Homo sapiens: one gene and its partners. The protein of the gene in region 5 purifies or fractionates together with the protein of the main gene of each other region. This does not show direct contact. Each region holds a gene or a part of one and is shown on either strand. Other genes may lie near its edges.

The links.
Region 1: the proteins of GLS (region 5) and PLS3 fractionate together in Homo sapiens (co-fractionation; one large-scale study listed by BioGRID). This does not show direct contact.
Region 2: the proteins of GLS (region 5) and XPNPEP3 purify together in Homo sapiens (co-immunoprecipitation; one large-scale study listed by IntAct). This does not show direct contact.
Region 3: the proteins of GLS (region 5) and ALDH1B1 fractionate together in Homo sapiens (co-fractionation; one large-scale study listed by BioGRID). This does not show direct contact.
Region 4: the proteins of GLS (region 5) and PRSS35 purify together in Homo sapiens (co-immunoprecipitation; one large-scale study listed by IntAct). This does not show direct contact.
Region 6: the proteins of GLS (region 5) and PAK5 purify together in Homo sapiens (co-immunoprecipitation; one large-scale study listed by IntAct). This does not show direct contact.
Region 7: the proteins of GLS (region 5) and ALDH9A1 fractionate together in Homo sapiens (co-fractionation; one large-scale study listed by BioGRID). This does not show direct contact.

Annotation. Positions count from the first base shown.
Region 1 is NC_000023.11:115,559,794-115,563,973, reverse strand, and holds the start of PLS3 (plastin-3), read right to left. Parts: upstream 2,801-4,180; 5' UTR 2,714-2,800; intron 1,571-2,713; exon of another isoform or gene 1,444-1,570; intron 1,349-1,443; exon of another isoform or gene 1,243-1,348; intron 1-1,242. UniProt on the Homo sapiens protein: Actin-bundling protein.
Region 2 is NC_000022.11:40,881,148-40,884,647, reverse strand, and holds part of XPNPEP3 (xaa-Pro aminopeptidase 3), read right to left. Parts: intron 2,879-3,500; coding exon 2,471-2,878; intron 1-2,470. UniProt on the Homo sapiens protein: Catalyzes the removal of a penultimate prolyl residue from the N-termini of peptides, such as Leu-Pro-Ala. Also shows low activity towards peptides with Ala or Ser at the P1 position.
Region 3 is NC_000009.12:38,391,574-38,395,501, forward strand, and holds the start of ALDH1B1 (aldehyde dehydrogenase X, mitochondrial precursor), read left to right. Parts: upstream 1-1,128; 5' UTR 1,129-1,234; exon of another isoform or gene 1,235-2,860; coding exon of another isoform or gene 2,861-2,992; intron 2,993-3,928. UniProt on the Homo sapiens protein: ALDHs play a major role in the detoxification of alcohol-derived acetaldehyde. They are involved in the metabolism of corticosteroids, biogenic amines, neurotransmitters, and lipid peroxidation.
Region 4 is NC_000006.12:83,511,352-83,515,333, reverse strand, and holds the start of PRSS35 (inactive serine protease 35 precursor), read right to left. Parts: upstream 2,801-3,982; 5' UTR 2,640-2,800; intron 1-2,639.
Region 5 is NC_000002.12:190,904,821-190,908,320, reverse strand, and holds part of GLS (glutaminase kidney isoform, mitochondrial isoform 1 precursor), read right to left. Parts: intron 3,318-3,500; coding exon 3,154-3,317; intron 1-3,153. UniProt on the Homo sapiens protein: Catalyzes the first reaction in the primary pathway for the renal catabolism of glutamine. Plays a role in maintaining acid-base homeostasis. Regulates the levels of the neurotransmitter glutamate, the main excitatory neurotransmitter in the brain.
Region 6 is NC_000020.11:9,536,870-9,539,473, forward strand, and holds the end of PAK5 (serine/threonine-protein kinase PAK 5), read right to left. Parts: coding exon 2,593-2,604; 3' UTR 501-2,592; downstream 1-500.
Region 7 is NC_000001.11:165,688,563-165,692,062, forward strand, and holds part of ALDH9A1 (4-trimethylaminobutyraldehyde dehydrogenase isoform 1 precursor), read right to left. Parts: intron 1-3,500. UniProt on the Homo sapiens protein: Converts gamma-trimethylaminobutyraldehyde into gamma-butyrobetaine with high efficiency (in vitro). Can catalyze the irreversible oxidation of a broad range of aldehydes to the corresponding acids in an NAD-dependent reaction, but with low efficiency.

The DNA of each region.
Region 1 (4,180 bases), on a different chromosome or scaffold from region 5:
AAGAACTTATCCCCCTACCACTGTAACCTAGTTGAGTGGTAATAACTTCCTTTTTTTGAGGTTAAACATTTATTATTTCGATCTAAAATTATATTATCACCTCACTTCCACTAGAGGGGTCTATCTACCAGTGTAGTTAACTCTAGTAACTCAGGTGCACCTTAAATCCATTTCCAGCTCATCTGTGCCACAAGGCTAGCCTTGGGGTCAGAACAATGTGCTTTAAGGTTGTTCTAGTTTTCAGGCTCAGAAACGGATGAACAGCAAGAAACTGGAGTGCTCCGGTCATTCAGAGGCTGCTGCAGGAGACAAAGGGTTTTTGGCAAAAGAATACAAAGTCAGAATCTCTTAAATATCTTCTGCCCTAGTTGTTTTCAAGACTGAATATGCATCAACCAGGTCCGTTTTTTCTTTTTTTTTCAGATAAGCAAAGCTTTTAAACTCCTGACCTCAGAGGCTCCTCTGCCTCTCTTCTATACTCTGTAATATATAATCTGAATAGCCAAATTGCCACGTTTTCCCAGAAGCAACCTTAACTTGGGCCACTTGGGCGGGTATAGGTCAATATGGGAAAGTTGTTTCAGTGTCCTCTCATTATTCTACCAAACCACTGACAGGCAAAAACCCAACCAACTCGATGTATCAAATTTACTATCCACTGTTTTTGTGCATGATTTCTAATCCAGTTAATTGAAAACCACAAATAACTGGTGGTTAATTTTAGTCAAGAGGTTATTTACTACCTTTAAGTAGTTGCCTAAAATAGGGAACAGTTCAATTAGAATATAGGCCAGACCAAGGAAGATGAACAGAGCCTTACTTTTTAACACTATCTTGTGGGATTTAGCTTCAAATCTAGTATTCAGGGACAAAATGAGGCATGAGTAATAGGATGACTTCCCTAGAAAATAATTAGTAAGATGTTTTTTAAATTTAGAAAAACCATGAGATTGAAGAAGAGAGGAGATACATGTCCCAGCTCACATATATTTCAATCCCTTATTTTAAAAACAGCTCCTGTTTTTGTTTTGGATAAAAGCTGAGCACCAAATTCCCTTTCTGGTCCCCTCATCCAAAATCCTAGTAGACTTCCTTGATTAGAAGCTAGTTCACACTCCTCCCCACCTTTTTTTTTTTCAAACGTAGAGGTGGTTTTTGGAATATGGGCCTCAACCATTACATTCCAGCTTTAAAGTAAAAAGACGTCATGTGACCATCAGAGACTTGGGGCACGTGATTCCAACTGGTATGTGTGGGGCTCCAGCCACTTAGTTGGAATTCACCATGAACTGCATCTCGAGGATCAAGTTTAGGCTCCCCAGTCCATTGTGACATCCAGCAAAGTGGAGTAAGTGCTTGCCCCTCAATGGTTTTTACTTTTCCCTACATTTTCTACCTACTGTTAGCCAGGCTCCCTTCCCTCCTCCCAATCCCTCTTAACAGGCCGGGCGCCCCCAGCATCCCGTCTGTCTGACGCTAAATGGCGAGGCTCTCCAACCCACTTAGCTCCAAGCTCAACCTTCTGCAAAAGTTCAACCTTCTGCACCACTGGGGATATCGTGCAGCTCAGGTGAGAGGCAAGGAGCATCGCATAAGGCTAGAGTCAGATGCCATTAACCCCCACTCCACCTCCCGGGCTGGGATCATCTTACGTCCCGGAGCCCGGCGGTCGGAACCGCCAGCACACTGGAGCAGCGACGGCGGCAGCAACTTTGGGACTGGCGAGAAGCCAGGGCGGGGGTGGTCGGCGTCCCCGGGCCTCTCATTACAGCGCTTAAGTACTGCGGGTGGAGAAAAGTAAACACAGGCAAGTGCAGCTGTGCGGGGAAAGGGCGGGGGGGTAGACTATTACCTCCCTCCCGTCGCCCCTTTGCCTCTCCCTCTCCAAGAGTCGGGAGAGGTCCGGGACTGCCGCCGCCCCGACCGCGCGCCCGGGGCCGCAAAGTCAAAGGAGCTGAAAAAAGGACAGGGGGTGTGGGGCCAGGGGAGAACGGAAAGGTACTGTCCTACTAGCCCAGAGATGTTCTCCTACTGAAAGGAAAAAAAGTGCTTACTCATAGGGAGACTAGGTGCGTTCGCGACGCCCTCGCTAAGGACAAGGGAGGGAAGCAGGCAGAAGGCAGGCAACCCAAACCTCGTGCCTTCCCTCGGCCACGGCCCCCCCTCTCCAGAGCCCCAGGGTCGGCTTAAGCCAGCCAGGTCACCCGAGGCGGGCGTGTGGGGGCTGGAGGAGTAGCAGGCTGCTGGCTCCGGGATTTCCTGAGTCCGGGCGGGAGGGAAGAGGGGATGGCAGTAGCTGGAGAAGGACGACAGAGGGAAGTTGTGCGCTCCCTTTCCACTTCGGGGCCGCAGCCGCGGAGGGGAATCAGGGCAAGGGCTGGCGTCTAGGACTCCAGCCCAAGACTGGCAACAAGTTAAGAGCAACTAGTAAGAAAACACCACTTAATACAGTGAAGTGCAGAAAACGTGTCTGCGGCGGATGCTAGTAGGGAAACTCCCCGTCACTCACACCCATTTCGGTTGCGACCGATCGCCCGGGCGCCCGAGGGCTCCAACTGAAATTTCTCCGACCTCCCTCTCCCCCAACCCCCGCCCCACGGTGCGCCGCACGTTCCTGCTGAGCTTAACCGAGATGCTCTCCCCGGGACCCACTCCTGCCCACGCCCAGGAAACCCGCTCCCCTAGTGCCCGCCGGCGCCTACAAAGCACTTACGTAAAGTCGCAGAGTCCTGGGTCTGGCCCGACTGCCGCCGACCAACCCACTCAGACAACTTCTGCACCTCGGAATCTTTGCAGCTGTGGCTCTAAAGCCAGCGCTCCCTCCCCTCCTGCCAGCCCCCTCCGCCCCTCGGCCGCCGCCATTGGCTCGGGTGGTGCTAGCAGTCGGCCTGGGAACCAGGAAGGGGATTGGGCCACGAGCCTGTCACATCAACTGGGTGGGGATCCAGGAAAATAGGCACGGGGATGGGCACCCAGGAGGGATAGGGACTGCAACTCTGCTGCAGGGAGAGGAGAATGGTCCCCAGCGCCTGAGTCTCCCCTTCCTACTTGGGCTAAGAGGAAGTTAGAAGTCCAACGTGCCTGGCTCGGAGTACACATTCACACAATCTTGTGGGATTAATAAAAAGATGAAAAAGTTGGGAACAAGAATTTGAATGCCACCTATATAAGTCTATGGGGGAGGGGTACAGTTTCTCCCAGAATCGTGAGAAGAATAACGGCATGTTGGGGAACATTCCTAATTACATCTGCAACAATCAGTCCAGGTGCCAAAGGGTGCAGAGGGAAACATCAGCAATCATTCCTTTCCTTAAGAAGTCAAGGGAGAAGAATATGGGCAGGGCAGGGCCCTCAAGCCTTTGGCCTCATGCCAAGTAAATTGTTAGCCCACATCACCTGTCTGGTATGTTTGTCCATGCGGAGAGGGGTTGAGAGGAGGTGGTTGGAAGTACATTGGTTCCACTCTTTTGACCGGAAATGGGTATCAATTCTCATCAGTCTCCTTTCACCAGAGAAAATTTGGAGACATGTTACTACTCCCCAGACTGCCATTTCTTCTCCTTCTCTGCCCAGGAGATGGCTTCCACGTCATAGCTGACCTCTTTCATTAATACACGTGGAGGTTATCTGCATTCCAAACCTATGGTTCATCGTATATCCAAAATCAACTCAGAGAGCCAGAGTTTGAGGGATTTTGCAGGGTCAGGTCAAGAGACTGACTTGTGGGATAGCTGTAGAAGAAAAAGTCTAAGCCCTTTCCTGTTCCAGTCGTAACCATTTTGTTGAGGAAATGTGTGCTTGGAAAGTTCTGTCAACATTTAAAATTAGTTCAATTAAGTCGCATTTTACATGTACCAGGAAAAAATGCTGAGAGGCTTTAAAATGGAATGTTCTTGAAAAGGAACCCCTATTTCATCTGCCATTATGAATTTCCTTAGAGAAATTAATCCGTAGTGAGTGCCAAGGCTTCTTAAAAGGGAAGAACTTGGGGAGTTCATATATTGCCTAAAGGCTAGACTAGCAGAGGACTTGGCACGAGGAAAAAGCCTTGTTAAATATTAATTAATGATTAACCAACTGGAAGAACTTATGAAAGGCACAGGAAGGTGAAAAAGAAATGGGAGGGCAATCATGCTTTCACAAACATTGAATTTCTGTTATGGGAGATTTTCTACTGGTT
Region 2 (3,500 bases), on a different chromosome or scaffold from region 5:
ATAAATATGATTTTAGCCAGGCACGGTGGCTCACGCCTGTAATCCCAGCACCCTGGGAGGCTGAGGGGGGTGGATCACCTGAGGTCAGGAGTTCGAGACCAGCCTGACTAACATGGTAAAACCTTGTCTCTACTAAAAAAAAACAGAAAAATTCCCCGGGCATGGTGGCGCGTGCCTGTAACCCCAGCTACACGGGAGGCTGAGGCAGGAGAATTACTTGAACCTGGGAGGCAGGAGTTGCAGTGAGCCGAGATGGTGCCATTGCACTCCAGCCTGGGCAAGAGCGAAATTCTGTTTCAAAAAAAAAAAAAAAGGAATGGTGACCGAGAAGTACTTTTGAGAAATTTATTTTACATGAGATTGTAACTATACTGAATTAATAAAACTTAGACAGTAGAACATGACAAGTAGCAACTAATGTAAGAAAAAAGCTAGAAAGAAAATGATTCTATGCCCCACATTTATGTGGATTTTGAAGACATAAGAAAGTTCAATGAATTGAACAGGCTAATTATCTATAAAATGGAAAACATTTCTATAAATAAAAAGAATTTAATCAAATGTATTAGAACTTACATATTCAAATGAGTATTTTCTTCCAAAAGAGGCTTTACAGGAAACAGTCTAATATATTTTATGATTGTGAAAAACATTTTTGGAATTCTCTTTTAGAAGCTAACTTCAGATATGATTTGTAACCCATGTAAGAAAAATCAAACAAAAACTTTATAATTATACATTATCTTGACCTAAAATCAGTATTTTTAAACTTGAGCATCTATCTTATTTTCCAAATAAGATACTTCAAAAAATAAAATACTTCCCAGAGCTAAAGTTTTTTAAGAATTACTAAAGATAGTTTATAATGTGGTGTAGGTTCTGAAAAAATTCCCAGAAGAAAAATCTCAAAACATTCGGATTGATTAAAATTTCACCAGAATAACTGTAGAGAAAGTAATTTCTTTGAGGGACAAGAACTCAACTATGGCCAGGCACGGTGCCTCACACCTGTAATCCCAGCACTTCAGGAGGCTGAGGTGGGAGGCTCACTTGAGGCCAGGAGTTCAAAACCAGCCTAGGCAACAAAGTGAAACTCCATCTCTACAAAAAAATAAAAAAAAATTAGCCAGACATAGTGGTGTGCCCAGGTAGTCCCAGTATTCTGGAGGCTGAGGCAGGAAGACTGCTTGAGCTTTGGGGTTCGAGGTTGCAGTGAGCCATGAGTGTGCCACTATACCTACATCCCAACCTGGGTGACAGAGTGAGACCCTGCCTAAAAAAAAACAAAAAAAGAACTCAACTGTATATGAACCACAAAAGATCTGTTAAAATGCAGATTCTGATTCAGTAGATAGGGGATGGAGGCCTGAGATTTTAATTTCTATTACATATTATGCATTTTTAATTTTAATATGCATTACCAGGTGATTCTGATGCTGTGATGCATGGATCGTTCTTGGAGAACAGTACCTCCTTTTGAAGAGCTGGCAAGAGCACTAAGATAAGAAGTAGTTGTCAAATATCAAGAAGCTGGTCAGTAATCTTGAAGAGTGGTCCATGCCCATCCTGTCCTTAATTTATTTATTTTTTGGAGATGGGGTCTCACTACGTTGTGCAGTCTGGACCTGAACTCCTGGCCTCAAGCGATCCTTCTACCTCAGCCTCTCCAGTAGCTGGACTACAGACGTACACCACTGTGTCTGGCTTATCCTTTGCTTTAAAAGAAAATTCTCTGTGAGATTTCAAACTAGGATAGGTAACAGTCTCCATTAATGAATAATCCAGTGAACATGGAGTTTTTTTTTAATTGAAATGTTCTAAAATTCATTGTGGTGATGGTTGCACAATTCTATGACTATACCAAAAACTCTTAAATTATATACTTTCATTTTATTATTTTTTTTGAGATGGAGTCTTGCTCTGTCGCCTAGGCTGGAGTGCAGTGGCGGGATCTTAGCTCACTGGCTCACTGTAACCTCCTGCAAATGAATAAATGAATCTTTTTTTTTTTTTAAGACAGTCTTGCTTTGTTGCCTAGGCTGGAATGCAGTGGCATGATCTCGGATCACTGCAACCTCCACCTCCCGGGCTCAAGTGATTCTCCTGCCTGAGCCACCTGAGTAGCTGGGATTACAGGCGCCTGCGACCATGCCTGGCTAATTTTTCTATTTTTAGTAGAGACGGGGTTTCGCCATGTTGGCCAGGTTGGTCTTGAACTCCTGGCCACAAGGAACCTGTCTGCCTCGGCCTCCCAAAGTGCTGGGATTACGGGCGTGAGCCAATGCACCAGGCATAAATGAAATCTTTAAAGAAGCTCAATCTTCTGAAAAAGACTTTACATTTCTTTCATGGTGCTCATGGTCTTTTCATGGTGGTGCTACGATAACAAAATTAAGGACTTGTCTAAACAGGCAAGAAAGGTTTTAATCCCAATCTGGTTTGTAATGTGACTTCTGCTCCCATTTGTTACCTTTCATTTTTGGTAGAAGATGTTGAAATTCTTCTAGCGTATAGGCTTCGTCTACTCCAGTTAGAGCTATTGCTCCATCAGTGCCAGATCGCGGACCATCCCAAAGTTCTCGACTGGGATCTCGCCGAGGCACAAAAAGTATGGCTTTGTGTGATGGTAATTGTTTGCCAGGGAGGCTCTGAAGGACAAGAATGCTATCAGGCTCTTGGAATCCACATAGGTACAGGAAATTGTTGTCTTGGTGGAAAGTATAGGGAATATCGTTGCTCATGTAGTATGTAGGGTTGGAGAGCACAACCACTGTCTGGTCTGTCCCACTCTGCCCTTGAGCTTCCTTCTGGATCAGAGACATTAGTTTGTGTCTGCGAAGTGCATATTCCACCTGAGATAGTCCTGGAGTTACCTCCCCTAGAAATGACAAATAAAAGGGATGCTTTACATTTCTGCAGTGCCAAAGTACTTAAGGTAGTTTAATATTAGATGGAAATACTCAAGTCCAATTGTTCAATTTATGCCAAATCTCCTCACAGCACATGGAGAATTAAGGAGATAACCAGGTTTCAAACTTGTATTCCACTGCAAAAATTTGGAAGAAATGATAGTTGAATGTGGCCCCGCCTGAAATCTGGAATCATGGACCCCTTAGATCTCTTCCAGGTCTTTGGCTCATTCTTTTACTCACTCAGTTATATTCATTGAATATAATTTTTTTTTTTTTTTTGAGACAGAGTTTCGCTCTTGTTGCCCAGGCTGGAGTGCAGTGGCATGATCTCGGCTCACTGAAACCTCTGCCTCTCAGGCTCAAGCAATTCTCCCACTTCAGCCTCCCGACTAGCTGAGGTGGTTCACGCCTGAAATCCCAGCACTTTGGGAGGCCAAGGCAGGCAGATCACCTGAGGTCAGGAGTTCAAGACCAGCCCGGCCAACATGGTAAAACCTCATCTCTACTAAAAAAAACACAAAAATTAGCCATGTGTGGTGGTGCATGCCTGTAATCCCAGCTACTCGGGAGCCTGAGGCAGGAGAATCG
Region 3 (3,928 bases), on a different chromosome or scaffold from region 5:
AAGGAATGCTGCCGCAGAACATCTCCCATTTCTGCTATCCTGCTAGTGCCACCCTACAGGGGCAGGACAATACCCTCCAATGCGTGCCCGCCTTCCACATCCGGCAGAGTACTACTAATTGGCAGCACCTAGTCCACATCCAGAACTCTAACTGCAAATGAGGCTGGGAAACATGGCGGTTAGCTTTGGGACCTCCCTAGCCAGAAGGAAGGTGCAGCGAGGGTGGAGCGAGTGAGATGCATGTTCAGTGGTCCATCTTGGCAACCTTTATAGCAACAAAATGGAGACAATTAAATGTCCAACAGTTTACCCCTACAACAGAATTCTATGCCACCTTGGAGAGGATGATGTCATCTGTAATTAGTGATAGGAGAAAACTTCAAAATACAGCGCTAAGTTTTTAAATTTTTTTTAAAGCAGCACAACAGAGGTTACTATATGATTTTATTTTTATTAAAATAATTTTGAAAGATGCAGAGGAAACAATACTAGCAGGACGAACACCGTAATAATGGCTACCGTAGGTGAAGAGATTACAGGTGATATTTTTCTTCTTTTTTCATCCTTTCCTGTGTTTTCCAAGCTTTCTACACTGTGCATACATTCTTTTTGTCCTTAGGACAAAAATGTACTTTGAAAAATGCCCAAATATAAAATCTTCTTGAAGGAACTGAAGAAAGGAGCAGTGAAAGTGGAGGACAGAAATTAGTGAATCCTGGACAAAAAAAGTGAGGGAGAGGCGAGGCAGAGAAGGGGTTAAGGGGAGTCTCAAGGATGGCAGTCGATTAAGCAGCGTCTTGCAGCGGGGAGAAATGCAAAGTGTAGTTGGGGTTCGGTCTCCGAAAACTTTGCTGTGTGACCTGGGGAAGCCCCTGCCCCTCTCTGGGTATCTCTGTTTCCGCTCCCAAACCAGTGCCTTAGGAGCCTAGATCTGAGCAACGTGGACACTGGGCTTGCGGAGACCCGAGGGAGGGAGCGCTGAAGCGGTGCGGGCTGCCGGGGGTAGAGGGGCGGGGACCGGGAAAGACCGGGCGGGGCGAGGGAGGAGCGGCCTTGGCCGGCGACAGGACGTAGGCAGCGCCCCAGGCGCAGGCGGAGCCTCATTGGCCGCTGAGCCCCGGGCTGCGCGGAGGCGGGACCTGCGGCCAGCCCTGGGCGGCCATGTGGACAGAGCTGGGAGGGCCGGAACCAGAACCCAAGCGTGATCCTGAACCGGAGCCCGAGCCTGCTGCAGGTAACTAACGCTGGTCTCCCCTCGGCTCCCTCGGGAAGCCGCAGCTCCTGGCTCCGCGTGGGGGCTTTCCTCTCTGGGCCGCGGCGTCCGCATCTGGGGGCTGGCCTTTCCGCCGTTGCACTGTAGGACTCTCTCCACGTCCCCTAATCCCATCCCCCGCCTCTGGGTGACGCTACAGGAGCCCCGAGGACACAGACGCCCCCAGACCTTACCACGTTAGCTCGACCTCAACACTCCTGCCCACTCGGCCCACTTCAACAGAGGGCCCCTGACCATAGCCCAGAGGCTTGGACAAGCCCAAAGGTTGCGCCCTTTCCCCCGCAGAAGGGGTGAGGTGGGCGCCGCTGCAGTTCCCGCGGATAGAGAAGGTCCGGTCCTTCCCGCTGTGGGTGAACTGTAAAAAATTGCCTGTATTCAGGAGGATATGCAAAGCTAGGTTTGTGGAAGTCTGGGGTGAGGCTCCTATACTTTCTTGCTGTGTGTCCTCGGTGAGTCCCTGAACCTCTCTGATGCCCAGCCTTCTTCCAGAATGGGGGTCATCATCAACCCTGACCACCCAGGGACTGCAGAGAGGCTTGGCAAATTTCCCGTGAGAAGACAGCCTGCAAACTGTAAAGCATGATGCTCTGTGAGCTGTGATCTTCCTATCAGCAAGTGGAGGCCCCAGCAAGAACCCCATATAGGCCCCAAGAGTAGGAACGGCCTTGGTGTGGCTGCAAAGGTTTGCCAGCCTTGGCCTATGACCACCTCTCCTGACTGCTTCACCCCTCCAATCCTTACCCCATGGGTTGGTGACTCCCCTTTCCCCTACCTCCTTTTGGTCTCCTCACCCTCAGAGCCAGGCCTGTTGGTGGCAAGGGGGCTGTGTCCCAGCATATGGCAAAGTCCTGAGCTAAATGGAACCCTGGGCACCCCTGGCAGATCTGCTGACTCAGCTTCCCCCTGTGGGATATGATGAGGTTTCTCTTCAAATAATCTGATCAATCTTTTATTCTTTAATTCTTAGTATCCCCCCCTTTTTTTTTTTCATTTTTCTCCTTTTTGCCTTTGTTAGATGCCCAGGCATGCCACAGTACCAAGCGTTATCAGTACCAGCTCACATTCCTTTGCTTATTTGGAAAGAAGACTAACTTTCTAGCTCATTACAGACACCCTTTCCCCTTTCTCTCCACTTTCTTTTACGTGCCCACTCTATCTAAAATAAATCAAATGTTTAGCCAACCGGGATTAGTTTAGATTGTACGACCTGACCCCAGCCAATGGGGAAAGGGTACAGGGGCAGGACTTGCATCAGGAATAAAGGCTCTCGTGCCCCTTTGTTCAGGTGTGCTCTCATGGCAACTGGCCAAGGAGGCATCCCTCTGCGCAGAAGTAAAATTGCTTTGCTAAGAATCCTGTGTTCGAGTGTTCAATTTCCTTAGGATTTTGAGCATTATTCCTAACACCCGCAAGGGGAAGGGAAACTTTCTTGGTCAGCATTGATTATTATTATTTTTTTTAGATACAGTCTTGTTCTGTTACCCAGGCTGGAGTGCAGTGGCACAATCATGGCTCACTGCAGCCTCAACCTCCTGGGCTCAGGTGATTGCCCCCACCTCAGCCTCCCAAGCAGCTAGAACTACAGGCATGCACCACTATGCTCGGCAAATTTATTTTTGTTTTTTTGTAGAGACACGGTTCTTGCTATGTGCTCAGGCTGGTCTCAAACTCCTGGCCTCAAGCAGTCCTTCCACTTCGGCCTACCAAAGCGTTACCAGCGTAAGCCACCACGCCCATCACATTGATTTTTATGGGGCCGGGGACCTACATGGAGCCTTGCTTTCCTGATTGAGTTTTTTGTTCCTCTCCCTGCCCAGGGGTGGAGGGTGAGAGGCTGGGGGTGAAGGGACAGGCAGGTGCAATTCCATTTTACCGCTGGGCGGAGCAAGACTCATGAGACATCAAAGGCAGAGAGATTCAAATTCTGACTGAAGAATAACTGCTTCAACTAATCTGGGAACACTACACTCTGTTTAATTTTCATTTAATATGTATTATATGCCGTTTAAGTTTTATAACAGTAGTTGTTTTAACGAAGTCTACACTCTTCAGAGTTGTAGCTTTTCTTCTCAGCTGCCTCCTGACTTGCTGCACCTCTGGGAAAGCTGAAAAGGGATGCTGAGACCTGTGGTTGGGGGATGCTGGGCTAGGTCAATTTCTGAGGCACGGCCAGTTCTGATGTCCTGAGTGGAGCTTGCCAGGGTTTTTATATGCAAGACATCATTCAACATAACCCCATGAGGCATTTCACATATGGGGGAACTGAGGCACAGAGGTGAAATGAAGCAAGTCCCTCTCAGAGAACAACCATCTCCAAGTCCCTTTGATTTCTACTCAAGTCTTAGGTCAATTCTTAGACAGCCTTTGTGGCAATTTCAGTGTTTTCTCAGTGTATCATTCAGTACTGTGTGTTGAGCCGCTGCTCTGTAGCAGGCATACCTCTAGGCTCGGGGACGTAGCAGTGAATGGAACAGAAAAATAAGTTCCTGTGCTCATGGAGCTTGCATTTTACTGGGGGGAGACAGACAAACATATAAGCCTGTAAAGATAGTATTTGGGATGTGAGATAGAGAAGGAGTAAAGCAGGGTAGCGGGGATAGAGAGTGTTGGGGTGGGAAGGGTTGCAATTTTTTAAAGGGTGGTCAGGGAAGGCCT
Region 4 (3,982 bases), on a different chromosome or scaffold from region 5:
GAACAGGATAGATAAATTTGTCTATTCAACAAATGCATACCACCTGCTAACTCCGCCATGCATTTCGAAGCCTTTATTTTAAAGAATCTCTCTGATAGTCCTTAACTGTTGAGTTGGACTAGAACATTTCTAAGATTTCTTCCAGCTTTAAAGTTCTAGAGTAAACCACAAATGAGAAAACACAAGTAATTTACTCATCAATGCTTCTCAGGAAGGTTCAATTCCTAGTCATCCAGGGAAGAACTTGCCTGTTATCCATGTTGCTACCACTAGATGGCAAAATTAGCCTGGTGATGGCAAATCTAACGCAGGTATTTAAAATGTTTACACTTACTCAGCTGTGAAATAGATTTTATTTTAAAAGCATGTAAGATTCAGCAGGGGCAAAACTTTTAACTGGCTAATAATATACTAAATGGCTGTGACATAGGGAGACATATGAAATTTATTATATTTAGAAAACCCACCTACCTACAGGCCACAGAGCCCATCCTGATGAACTGAGGGCTGATAATGCTGTCTACAGTCAGACAATTTTCTGGCAGATAGTTTTTCAAAAACAGTTGTAGTGCCAGCACACTTCCAGCATGACCTACAGCACTGTTAACTAGTCCCCCAAATGTGCCACAATTTATTTCAATGCTAAGGAAAATCTTGAACCTGCCAAATATTTCACGTTTATCAAATACTTTATAATCCATTACTAAAGGATAAGCTCTCCACTGATTCTAGGCTGAGAATAAATGGCAAGAAAGTTCATTGACAGTGGGCCAATTTCTATTCAAAATATCATACCATAGCACTATTTTCAAGTTTAGTTTCATAAATGGAGACCAAAAAAATGTCTGCTTAAAAAGTTTGGCAGTACTTGAGGGAAAGGAAGATGGTAAAGTTACACAGTTGATTATTTTACAGTAACCCACAACTTCTGTTTCTCATCACAATAAAAAACAAAACCTCCCTTTGTTTGGGGGCTATTTTTCCATGACCTGTACATCTCAATTTGTGCAATCCTATGGATAAATCAAATTTTGGGTGAATGACATTAAAGGAACCCCAAGAGGACTCTTTCATATGCTGCCTTATGAAGTGCACAGCATATAGCTCTAGACTTATCTGTATTTTTCAAGTTGGCCTTTGAGAGCAAAGAATATCTATAAATAGGTATGCTACTTTTCAGGTTTTAAAGCATCTATGGTCACAATGTTTTTAGCTAACCCACATCAGTTTTACCTATACGAAGCTTAACGTTTTTTAGTTATAAAATAATAGCTTGCATACTACTAACTTAACTTTACTGTTTCCTAACCTCTCCATCTCAGATTTCTCATCTGCAAAGTTACCTCAGTGCTAAGGTAAAGTAGCTCTATCCTCCCAAATTCTGAGTCTGATCCTACTGTTAAAATGCAATATGCTTGTTTGATATTTGAGCATTGGGCAGAGGAAAATCATTTACCCAATGGAGAAAATTAACTCACACTAGCAATTGCTTATTTTAACATCTAATGAACACATACTGTATGCCAAGTATATGCTAAACAGTCTCACATTTTAAAACGTGAAAAAGCTTCTTAAAAGCATGCAGTTTTCCCAGCTATCTGGAAGAAAAATGGGGTACAGTATCCACATCTACCACTTCCCTCACTAAAGGAACTCCTCTAATATTTCCTAATAAAAATAAAATTCCATATGATACTTGGCCTCTACCTTCAAGCCTACATGTCTTATTTGGCAGGGATTTTAACATTCTCTCTTCTAAATTATAAACCAGATTCTAAGTATAATTCTCCAGCCAGCAAAATATGACTTTTATAATCCTCTGTGGAGACAAATGTACTTCGGATAAAATAAGAATGAATTTCAGAAGTCAGAAGGGTTAATAAGGGGTGAAAGCCCCCTAGACACAGCAAGCAGCTTCTTTTCAAATCAAGGACAGTGTAAAAATGTCAGAGCAATCAAGCGGGAGTGTTTCTACAACTTTTTAAAAAACCTTTTATTATAGAAAATTTCAAGACTACACAAAAGCACAGAGAAAAGTATTAAGTTGAGAGAAAAGTACAACCCCCATGTGCACATCACCAGCTTCAACTATTGTCAATATTTTGCCAATGTTTCATCCACCATCACCACCCCACACACTTTTTTTTTTCAGCTAGAGTATTTCAAAGCAAGTCAAAAGCTTTTCTACTTCATTTCGCCGCCTCATTTTCTAAACGTTTTCCTATGCTCCTTTTGCTGACCTCCGCAGCCAAGTTGATAAAAGGGTAGAGGGGAGAGGCTAGCTTTCATAGTAACCCCGCCAAAGAGACTTTTCAGGAATGCGTTTCATACCTTTCTCAATGGCATCTGTTAACAATCATAAAAATAAAGAGGGTCCCCTCTGGTACTGCTTAAGCAGAAAGAATTCCATTTATATTCCAATGCAAACATTGTTGTCGTTAATATTAAACTGTGCAGAGGCCGGCACACAGAATTGCCTATGGGAAGGGTGGTTAGTTTCTTTGAGGACTGAAAGAAAGTGTCAAGTTTGATCCCTTTCTTCAAAGTCCTTCAAAGAAGCTCTCCTCGGGTAGGTCCTGCCTTTCTCAGGGAAATTTCTAAGTTCTAAGGTTGTTGGGTTTGGGGAGCTTCATCTTTACCTGCCAGGCTTGTTTGGTCCCCGAGGGCACTGTCAGCTGAGATCAGAGCTCCCGAGGAGGCGGGCGGGGACGCTGCAGCTGGGAGCCTCTCAGCCAGCCTGAGCCGGAGGCCGCCCCGCCAAGGCCGGGCCACAGCACCCAGAGCTCGCCACTGAGACTGCGGAGGGGGAGAGAGCTGCGCCGCACCACGGCCGGGAGATGGGAGGGGAAAGGGGGCGATGACGAGGGGCGGGCGCGGTGGGATGGAGTGGGGGGAGGGGAGGAGGAGGAGGTGGGCAAGAGGAGACGGAGAGGGAGGGCGGAGAGGGGAGTTCCCTGGAGGAACGGGGCGGACCTGGCCGTGTCTCACCCCAGCATTTCTGCCCCCAAGCTGAATTAAGCATTAGGAAAAATTCATGAGTAGGTTCACAGGGGATGCCTGTCCCTGTAATAGTATGCACTCCTTTAACAGTCTCAGGAGTTGTTCAGTTAAGAGTCTCATTCCTCACTGCTTGCTGTTGAGACCCCAGGCATCTAGAAGAACGGAGGGCGTCTCCCCAACCTTATCCCAAGCTAGTCTCCACCGGGGACCTAGCTTCTCTGGATGCACAAGCCTCAGGGTTACCCCGACTTGTACCAGGCGCCCAGGCTGCACACGAGGATGGGGACCTCAGGCTGGGACGCCTGGACCCCCGGGAGCATCCTGCGCTGCCTCCAGGGGGAGCGCGTCAGTTTCCGTCTGCAGGGAAAAGGCTGGTTTTCCTCTTTGGGCGAGTAACCTTTAAGGTCCTTTCCCATCTCAGTCCCACCAGCATTCTAACCTCATCCGTTCTCTCGACCTTTTATTCTCCTTTAGGAGAGGGGTGGGGGCCACATGAGAAAGGAAGCTTCATTTGTTTAACAACAAATTCTAGTGGGTGACAGGTCTGGGGCAAGATGAACTGATACAACGAGAGAATACATAAACAAAAACAAAAACAAAAACAAAAAAACTCGGTCCTGGCCCTAAAGCAGGGAGATCGAGTAAGTGCACAAGTACTTACAACACAAGGTCTTAGCATGTCTTGTAACACTTGGTTCGTTAGTAGGTTATTGCGTATCTCAAGTTCTGTGTACTTTTAATGAGATTATAACATACTTAGCATTGTCCCTCGTTATACTCAACGGACTAGTTCCAGGCCCTCTTCCCCTCCGCCCCCCCATACTAAAATCATCCCATATTCAAGTCCAAGTCCAGCTGTGGGCCCTGGGGAACCCGCGTATAGGAAAAGTCTGCCCTCTGTTTAAGCATTTCTGCCTGAAAATACTGTTTTCTATCCGCTTTTGGGTGAAAAAAAAAATCTGTGTATAAGTGGACCTGTGCA
Region 5 (3,500 bases):
TGAGGCAAAGTTTGCTAATACATATACTAAAGAACGAAAAATATTAAAAAGGATTTCCAATTTAATTTGGATATTTATATTTTCGGTATTATATTGGAATTTTACAGTGCCAAATAAAAACTGGAGTTAAGGAAACTCAATTATCTGACATTACACACATTTACAATATATTCTCTAGATATAGAGAAAATATTCTCCATCTGGTTGGGATATATATGGTTACGAAGAATGTGCAGTGCCCATTGAGGATGGTTGGAAAAAATGTGCAGTGCCCTCTCACATTCTTCCCAACCATCCACAATTCATCCTATCAATTCAGTCCTGTCATCCTCATGTAAATTAACTCAACTCCTCTTTTTTCTCAATCCTCCACACATATAATCAGCACATACATTTTGGCACCTGTCAATTACATACTTGTAAGATAATACAACTAACAGTATTCAATGCTTAAGTATGTCTTCTCCCATTATGTATTAGAAATATGTAATTGCCTTCTGTATCCTGTAGTCAGAAAAGTTATTCCAAGAAGCAAGGCCCATGTACCCTCCAGAGCTGTTAACAATACAGACAAGGAAAGCTATATAAATAATTTGTTGATTAACCCGATCACTACAAGGTAGAAAAAGACTTCCCTGGGAGATGGTAGTTTGCAAAACTGACATCTCCATAAAGTAACTTGTTTGCTCACTTATAATGATAAAAAATATCAGCCACCTCCTACCAAAACTTTCTATGTTGCAAACATTTTAAAACTACTGTTATTGCCAGGTGTGGTGGCTCACGCCTGTAATCCCAGCACTTTGGGAGGCTGAGGCAGGCAGATCACCTGAGGTTGGGAGTTCGCGACCAGCCTGACCAACATGGAGAAACCCCGTCTCTACTGAAAATACAAAATTAGCCAGGGTGGTGGCACATGCCTGTAATCCCAGCTACTCGGGAGGCTGAGGCAGGAGAATCGCTTGAACCCGGGAGGCGGAGGTTGCGGTGAGCCGAGATTGCGCCGAGCCGAGATTGCGCCACTGCACTCCAGCCTGGGCAACAAGAGTGAAACCCCGTCTCAAAAAAAAAAAAAAACTACTGTTATTAAAAACTACTGCCGGGTGCAGTGGCTCAAGCCTGTAATCCCAGCACTTTGGGAGGCCGAGGCGGGCAGATCACGAGGTCAGGAGATCGAGACCATCCTGGCTAACACAGTGAAACCCCATCTCTACTAAAAATACAAAAAATTAGCCAGGCGTGCTGGCGGGTGCCTGTAGTCCCAGCTACTCGCTGAGGCAGGGGAATGGCGTGAACCCGGGGGGCAGAGCTTGCAGTAAGCCGAGATCATGCCACTGCACTCCAGCCTGGGGGACAGAGCCAGACACCATCTCAAAAAAAAAAAAAAAACTACTACAATTTCTCTATTTACCATATCCCTATTAGTCTTAATAAATCATCACAATCTTATAAAGCTGGTGTAACAGTAATATATTTATTTTTTAAAAATTTATTATTTTAGATACACACATATATACATACACACACAAAAAGTGTATGGTTTCACCAAAAATCTACCCTTGCAATTTTAAATATGAACGAGATCTTCAAATTGTTTTTGCTGGGCTAAACTAAATCAGGACTCAAGAGCACAGGCTCTAATCAGAATTCAGGAAGGTGTAATATAGTGAAGCCTGTATTTACTGTTACTTTCAAGACTCAGGGTGTTGGCTCAGGCTTAGAAAACGTCTATGAATATCGAGGCAAAATCTCTTGTTAAACTTTATGTTTTATTCTTATTATAAACAATTCTAAATCTCTGATTTGTCATTTTTTCTTATATAGAATACAGTATCAATAATTCATGATTCCTAAAACCATAAATATATATGGCAAAAAAATTCATTACTTATACTGTTAATTTCATTTGCTCCAAGCCCATTTTGTTTTTTTGTTTCTGAAATCCTCTAAACATTCAAATTACTATATTTGTTTTTTCTTAAATATCTCCCTCGAAATCCATCAATTCACTAGACATGTCTATTCTCCTTTGCTGTTCATGGAAAAGTATTAAATTTTTCTTTTAAAATATTTGGTATTTTTAGAATAACAGTATTAATTCTTTCAATATTAAATCTAGATGTCAATGAGCTTAGTAAATAAAGTGCTTCTGCATATGATGTCCTTATTGAAGTTGTTAATTTACAGTAATGTCCATAAAACCAAACGTAGCATCAGAATAAAAAGGTTACGGTAAAATGGGAAAGAAAATGTAACTGCTCTCAAAATAAATAGGATGAGAAGCATAAGAAAATACCAGTCTTATGACTTCATCTTACAAACTAATAAAATAATGAGTATAAGGCACATTTCATTTTTTATACAGCAGAAAAAAAAAGTACAAAAGTGTATCTCTCACAGCCATTACTACAAACTTCGCTCTCACTTTCTTCAATTCTATATCTTAACTCATCAATCAGAAACACAGCATATGCTTAGAAGATTAAAAAACAGAAACCAAACCATGGGACTAGTTTAACTTAGTTTGCACTCAGCTAAATGATGTTTAGACTTAAAATCTCTATCAGATCAAACTAACTACTTTTGTCCTCCCCTTTTCTTTTGAATTCCTGTAAAAAGATTTGTTAACCAAGCATTAAACACAAAGCATTTCTTTCAAATTTTTTAATGTTATAAGGATAAAAAGTAAAAACACTCACTGAAAAATAATAATCCTCACTATCTCAACCAGGGCCACAATAAAACTTTCAACTACTATATACAATATAATAGATAGAATAATATACAAACACCCATGCACCTATCATTTAGCTGCAATAATTACCAACATATAGTAATAATCATACCCAGCACTCCCAGCTGCCTTAACTAAATTATTTTAAAGCAAATCTCATGTATTTTGAGATTTCGCTATATTTCCCTAAAGGTGGTTATGAAGAGAGAAGTTCATGTTCTCCCTAGCCCACTTCCCAGTGGTATGAGATGCCTAAAATAATCATTTTTAAAAGTAGGTGATGAAACTCTCTCAATGGATTATATAGAAATCACATGACAAATACTTTTAATTTTAATCAAAAAATGTTTAAAACGACTTAGATTTACATAGGAAAATGAGACATTTCTTTTTTCAACCAATGTTTATGTAATTCTTACCATCTTCATTCAAAAATAGTTTGTTGAATCTTAGTCCACTCGGCTCTTTTCCAACATATCGATGCACATATTCAGTTCCAAGATCATTAACAGCAATGGCATATTTCAAAGGTTTTACACAGGACTGAAGACAGAAGGGAACTTTGGTATCTCCAGTAGAATGCCTATTTAAAAGGAGATTTTTAAAAAATAACATCAACTGGGAAAAAAATGTAACTGCATAGTTGGAATTATTCTTTTTACATGTTAACAATTCCAACAAAAATTTTCCCATAATTCAACCACAAGTTTATGTCAAAATTACAGAATAAATTTAAGTACAGTCATCCTTTGATATCTGTGGGAGG
Region 6 (2,604 bases), on a different chromosome or scaffold from region 5:
GGAAGGGAACGTCACACACTGGGGCCTGTGAGGGTGTGGGTGGTTAGGGGAGAGATAACATTAGGAGAAATATCTAATGTAGGTGATGGGTTGATGGGTGCAGCAAACTACCACGAGAGGTGTACACCTATGTAACAAAACTGCATGTTCTGCACATGTAACCCAGAACTTAAGGTATAATAATTAATTAATTAATTAATTTTTAAAAAAGCCCTCAGATCAGTTTTGCATCTTTGGAACAGGGAAGTAGAATGAGAGTCTTCAGCCCTGAACCTGGCTTTCCTTGAACGTGGCCTTCCAGAATTTAGTAATTTTTTTTTCAGTAGTGGTATCGACATCACCATCTTACACTCTTTACAATCCCTAGGGATGGATATATTTGTCTTTACGTCATGTCATCACAATGTTACATACAACTTTGTACCAACTCATTTGCACTCCCCAAGATCACAAAGAAATCATTCTTGGTTACTCAATAAAATAAATTTGAGAAATCACTGTTTCCAATAACACAATGGGGAAAAGGCAAACATTTATTTTTATTTGCAAATGCAGTTTCTGCCAATAGTTAGTGCTCACAAAACCTTTTAAGCTACAGTAACTTTTGGTAAACTCAATGAATACTTTAAAAAATACCCGATGGTAAGAAAATTACAGAAAAATTTCCATTACACTGTCGAAAATGTTTGGAATCCAAAATCCACTATTTTCTGCAATAGTTTTTAATGTTTATTCTGGTTTAAAAAAGATTTTCTTTTTCTTTTCTTTCTACTTCTACATAGTCCTGGTTAAATTAATACAATCTGTCTCATGAACATTTAGGACTGCCATTTTCTGGATTTAGATTGTTTTTATTCTCACATATTTATATTAATGCTTTAATATTTTACATAAAACATTGATTTGCTGTTTTATGAAGCAAAATCATAGATCATATTTATGGAGGCATTTCCAGTTTGAAAGAAAACTGAAAATCTAATCAGTAGAAGGTCATTTTATGCCTTTTTTCCTTTTTAGCAGTGATAAATAATTAGCAACCTATTAATTACAAAAATTCTTAATTATGCTTAGAGCAACCAGAGCGCTATCACAAATTTAAATTCATATTTGTTACAGTATGTGAAATAGTTAAGAAAAGCCTCTGTTTTCCCAGTTTGGTAACAAATGGCTTTTGTCTGATGCATAATTAATAGAAACTAATGATGACTATGTAGCTCTTCCAGAGTTTTAAAGGCAAATCTATATTGGCCTACAGTTAACATGCAAATTCATCCAACAAGCAACACAAAATGTATTGTAGTAGTCATTCATTTTTATCAACATTCAAGAAGATCTAGACAGCAGCACGACTCTCCTATGTCGGAAACACATTATAACATGGGCACAACTGAAGTCAGATCATACCTGGTAAAATACCCTCTTGCTAATTCATCCTCTAGAGTCAGTTCAGACTTCCAGCACGATACATGAACAATAGCGATTAATACTGTGGTACAAAGGTAAATATAGACAAGAGTTTGGTGTGCTAGCATACAGAGTTTTAAAAATGGTGACAAATGAAACCAAACGTCTTGCCCTGTTCTCTCCTCTCCCTTTGTGAGCCTGGAATTCTCATGGTCTCACTGAAACATTCTATTTTGGGAACTGAATCCAATGATCCTAGCACTGAAATTGCTCCCTGGGAGGGAAATTTGGCCACAAGGGAACATTGTACCCATTTGAGAAAGGGCACTGAGGGAAACATTGTGGTGTGCAAAAGAATGGTTTGCTACTAGAGGCGTTCATGGAAAATGTGATCTTTAAAAATATTTAACTTTATCCCAAGGAGTGGTATACTGTGGCTCAAATTTTATTTCATTATTTTTGGTTGGATTAATGAAACGTGCACACCATCACCATCACTCTTAATTCTTCTTCCACCAAATAAGACACTTGTTAGGATAAGAAAGAGATTTTACTAAAGCTGACGGTGATTGAGAGTCATTCAGTATTCAAAGTTCCTAAAGAATCATTGGTTCTCTTAAAGGGATAAAAAAGTAGGAAAGGCTTTGTTCAAACTCCTCTAGTAAACAAGTATTACTTCAACTGATACAATGGCTACATGACATCAAAGTACTATAAATTATCAAAACTATCGTACAGAAAAATTACAAATTCGTTGCAAAATACATTATACTGCTACCATTAAGAAAAAAGTGCTTTTTGTTTTCCTTTCTTTCTTTTTTTTTTTTTTTTGCCAGAAAAGTATTCTTTCAATATAGAAAATCCTACATGTTACCCTGCATGTGGCTAGGATATATCATAACGGAGTTTGTACTGAGTCCTTCTGATTTGCTGGATGAAGGGCTGAAAAATATAATAATGACTTATTAAAGCCGTGCTCCAAGTGACCACACCGGCTGTCAGTGGAGAGATGCCTGTTTAAGACACAAGAAGATGCCCTGGTCTGTTGAACCCTGCCGGTCATCACGCTGTCCCACCAATTGGCTGGTCTAGAATGCACAGGCCTTTTGCATGTTCTGTGTTTCCTTTTGTTCTCCTGAATTATTCTCATGTCCTCATCTAGCTTTGCCACCTACACGAATCCTCTGCTCAGTGATGCCT
Region 7 (3,500 bases), on a different chromosome or scaffold from region 5:
CAAACAAAAATTAGCCAGGTATGGTGGTGCACATATACGGGAAGCTGAGGCAAGAGGATCCCTTGAGCCCAGGAGGTTGAGGCTGTAGTGAGCCATGATTGTGCCACTGCACTCCAGCCTGGGTGACAGAGCAAGACCCTGTCAAAAAAGAACAAAGAACTGCAGATCTTGATTAACTAGAAAAATCACTTAAAAGAAAACTGAGGGCTAATATGATTGTAGGTGTGGTCACAGAGTGGGATCTATTCAGTTATGGAATAAATTGGGGTGAAGGCAGGTTCAGAGCACGATCATCAGACAAGTGTTTTTGATTAATAAACACTTAATAATAAGCAGTGGGTTTTTGATTAATAAAACACCACACAGGTATCAAAGGAAAAGTAAAGGGGAGGGTAAAGTAAAAAGAAATGAAATTTAGTATCAGACAACAGATTTCAGAGCAAAAAATATTATTAGATATTACCCAGGATCAATAAAAGTCATTTCCTAACAATAAAGGAGCCAATTCTTAACAGCCCTACAATGCTGCTCATTCACAGGAAAAAAAATGGGCAAATGAAAATAATAAATTATCTGCTTTGAGTTATCTTTGGTTTATCGAATTAAAAATAAATTTTTAATAACGGGGAAAATACTTCGTTGGGAGAAAATTCTATATGAATATTTTGATATTTCTGCATGGTCAGGGCTTTCCAAGCAAAGGACACTGACGAGTTGATTGAATAGCAAAGGCCTTGAAAGGCAGAGACAGTATCTCCCTAAAGATAAAGAAATCTGGAGAAATTTAGAAATGTAAACCTCTTTACTTCCTGTTCCTGAAACATGTGCTTATACTCCAGGATAATAAACTTAGTGATACCTTCCCTCTCAACCCTGGAGATTTGCTTAATAAGTAATCTCAATCTCTCTCACTCTCTCCCCAGAGAAGAGGATGGGCAGATGTGCCAGTAATTTCTATTTAAATGAATCTCAGAAGTTTAGGGTTCTTCTCCTTTGGTGCAACTTCCTGCATGCACAGGGATCTCACCTGGTTCTCATCCCATCCCCTCACTCACCGTGGTGACCGGTGCTTTGAAAACAAAAAAACTAGGCCGGATGCAGTGGCTCATGCCTGTAATCCCAGCACTTTGGAAGGCCAAGGCAGGCGGATCACCTAAGGTCAGGAGTTTGAGACGAGCCTGGCCAACATGGGGAAACTCTGTCTCTACTAAAAATACAAAAAATAGCCAGGCGTGGTGTCATGTGCCTGTAATCCCAGCTATTCAGGAGTCTGAGGCAGGAGAATCGCTTGAACCCAGGAGGCGGAGGTTGCAGTGAGCCAAGATTGTGCCATTGCACTCCAGCCTGGGTGACAGAGTGAGACTCCATCACAAAAAAAAAATAATAATAAATAAACAGAAATTAGTGCTAAGGTATTGCTATGGCTGCTGCATTTTGCTGTAATAAACCATCCTTCTCTGTGATCCAAAAAGCCTCATGTCTCTTGCTAGAATATATATATGTATAAAATATACATATATTACACATAATTGTGTAATTTACAACTATAATATAGAATATATGTATATTATATAGATTATATATTATTCTATGTGTATAACATAGCTTATATGTGTATAATTATGTATATGTATATTATATGTGTTTTATATGTATATGTATGTAATATATACACATATACACACACACTCTTGAAAGCAGGGAAACTCTCAGACCCGTCACAGTTTCTGACGTAACATACTTATGACAAAAAGTCACCACAGACCTACCACTCAGCTATCCATGATTCTTATTTTGATGTATTCTCTTCTGAATTTTCTTTCTATAATGAACATCTGGTACTTCTGATCTTTAAGACTATAAAAAGTTTAACTATCAGAGTCCAGAATCAAGATGGCCGAATAGGAGCAGCTCCGATCTGCATCTCCCAGCGTGATCAATGCAGAAGACGGTGATTTCTGCATTTCCAACAGAGGTACTGGGTTCATCTCATTAGGACTGGTTCACCTGGGAAGCACAAGGGGTCAGGGAATTCCCTTTCCTAGCCAAGGGAAGCCGTGACAGATGGTACCTGGGAAATCGGGACACTCCCACCCTAATACTGCGCTTTTCCAACAGTCTTAGCAAACGGCACACCAGGAGATTATATCCTGCAGCTGGCTCGGCGGGTCCCCCACCCATGGAGCTTTGCTCACTGCTATAACAGCAGTCCAAGATGGAACTGCGAAGGTGGCAGTGAAGCTGGGGGAGGGGCGTCTGCCATTCCTGAGGCTTGACTAGGTAAACAAAGCAGCCAGGAAGCTCGAACCGAGTGGAGCCCACCACAGCTCAAGGAGGCCTGCCTGCCTCTGTAAACTGCACCTCTGGCGGCAGGGCATAGCTGAACAAAAGGCAGCGGAAACTTCTGCAGACTTAAACGTCCCTGTCTGACAGCTTTGAAAAGAGTAGTGGTTCTTCCAGCATGGAGTTTGAGATCTGAGAATGGACAGACTGCCTCCTCAAGTGGGTCCCTGACCCCCAAGTAGCCTAACTGGGAGACACCTCCCAGTCGAGGCCGACTGACACCTCATACAGGTGGGTGCCCTTCTGGGACAAAGCTTCTAGAGGAAGGATCAGGCAGCAACATTTGCTGTTCTGCAATATTTGCTGTTCTACAGCCTCCGCTGGTGATACCCAGGCAAACAGGGTCTGGAGTGGACCTCCAGCAAACTCCAACAGACCTGCAGCTGAGGGTCCTGACTATTAGAAGGAAAACTAACAGAAAGGAATAGCATCAACATCAACAAAAAGGACATCCACACCAAAACCCCATATGTAGGTCAGCATCATCAAAAACCAAAGGTAGATAAAACCACAAAGATGGGGAGAAACCAGAACAGAAAAGCTGAAAATTCTCAAAACCAGAGTGCCTCTTCTCCTCCAAAGGATCGCAGCTCCTCACCAGCAATGGAACAAAGCTGCACGGAGAATGACTTAGACAAGTGACAGAAGTAAGCTTCAGAAGATCGGTAATAACAAACTTCTCTGAGGTAAAGGATGATGTTTGAACCCATCACAAAGAAGCTAAAAACCCTGAATTCTACCAGAGATACAAAGATGAGCTGGTACTATTCCTTCTGAAACTATTCCAATCATTAGAAAAAGAGGGAACCTCCCTAACTCATTTTATGAGGCCAGCATCAGCCTGATACCAAGACATAACAAAAAAAGAGAATTTTAGACCAATATCCCTGATGAACATCGATGCAAAAATCCTCAATAAAATACTGGCAAACAGAATCCAGTAGCACATCAAAAAGCTTATCCACCATGATCAAGTTGGCTTCATCCCTGGGATGCAAGGCTGGTTCAACATACACAAATCAATAAACGTAATCCATCATATAAACAGAACCAAAGACAAAAACCACGACTATCTCAACAGACGCAGAAAAGGCCTTCGACAAATTTCAACAGCCCTTCATGCTAAAAACTCTCAATATACTAGGTATTGATGGGAC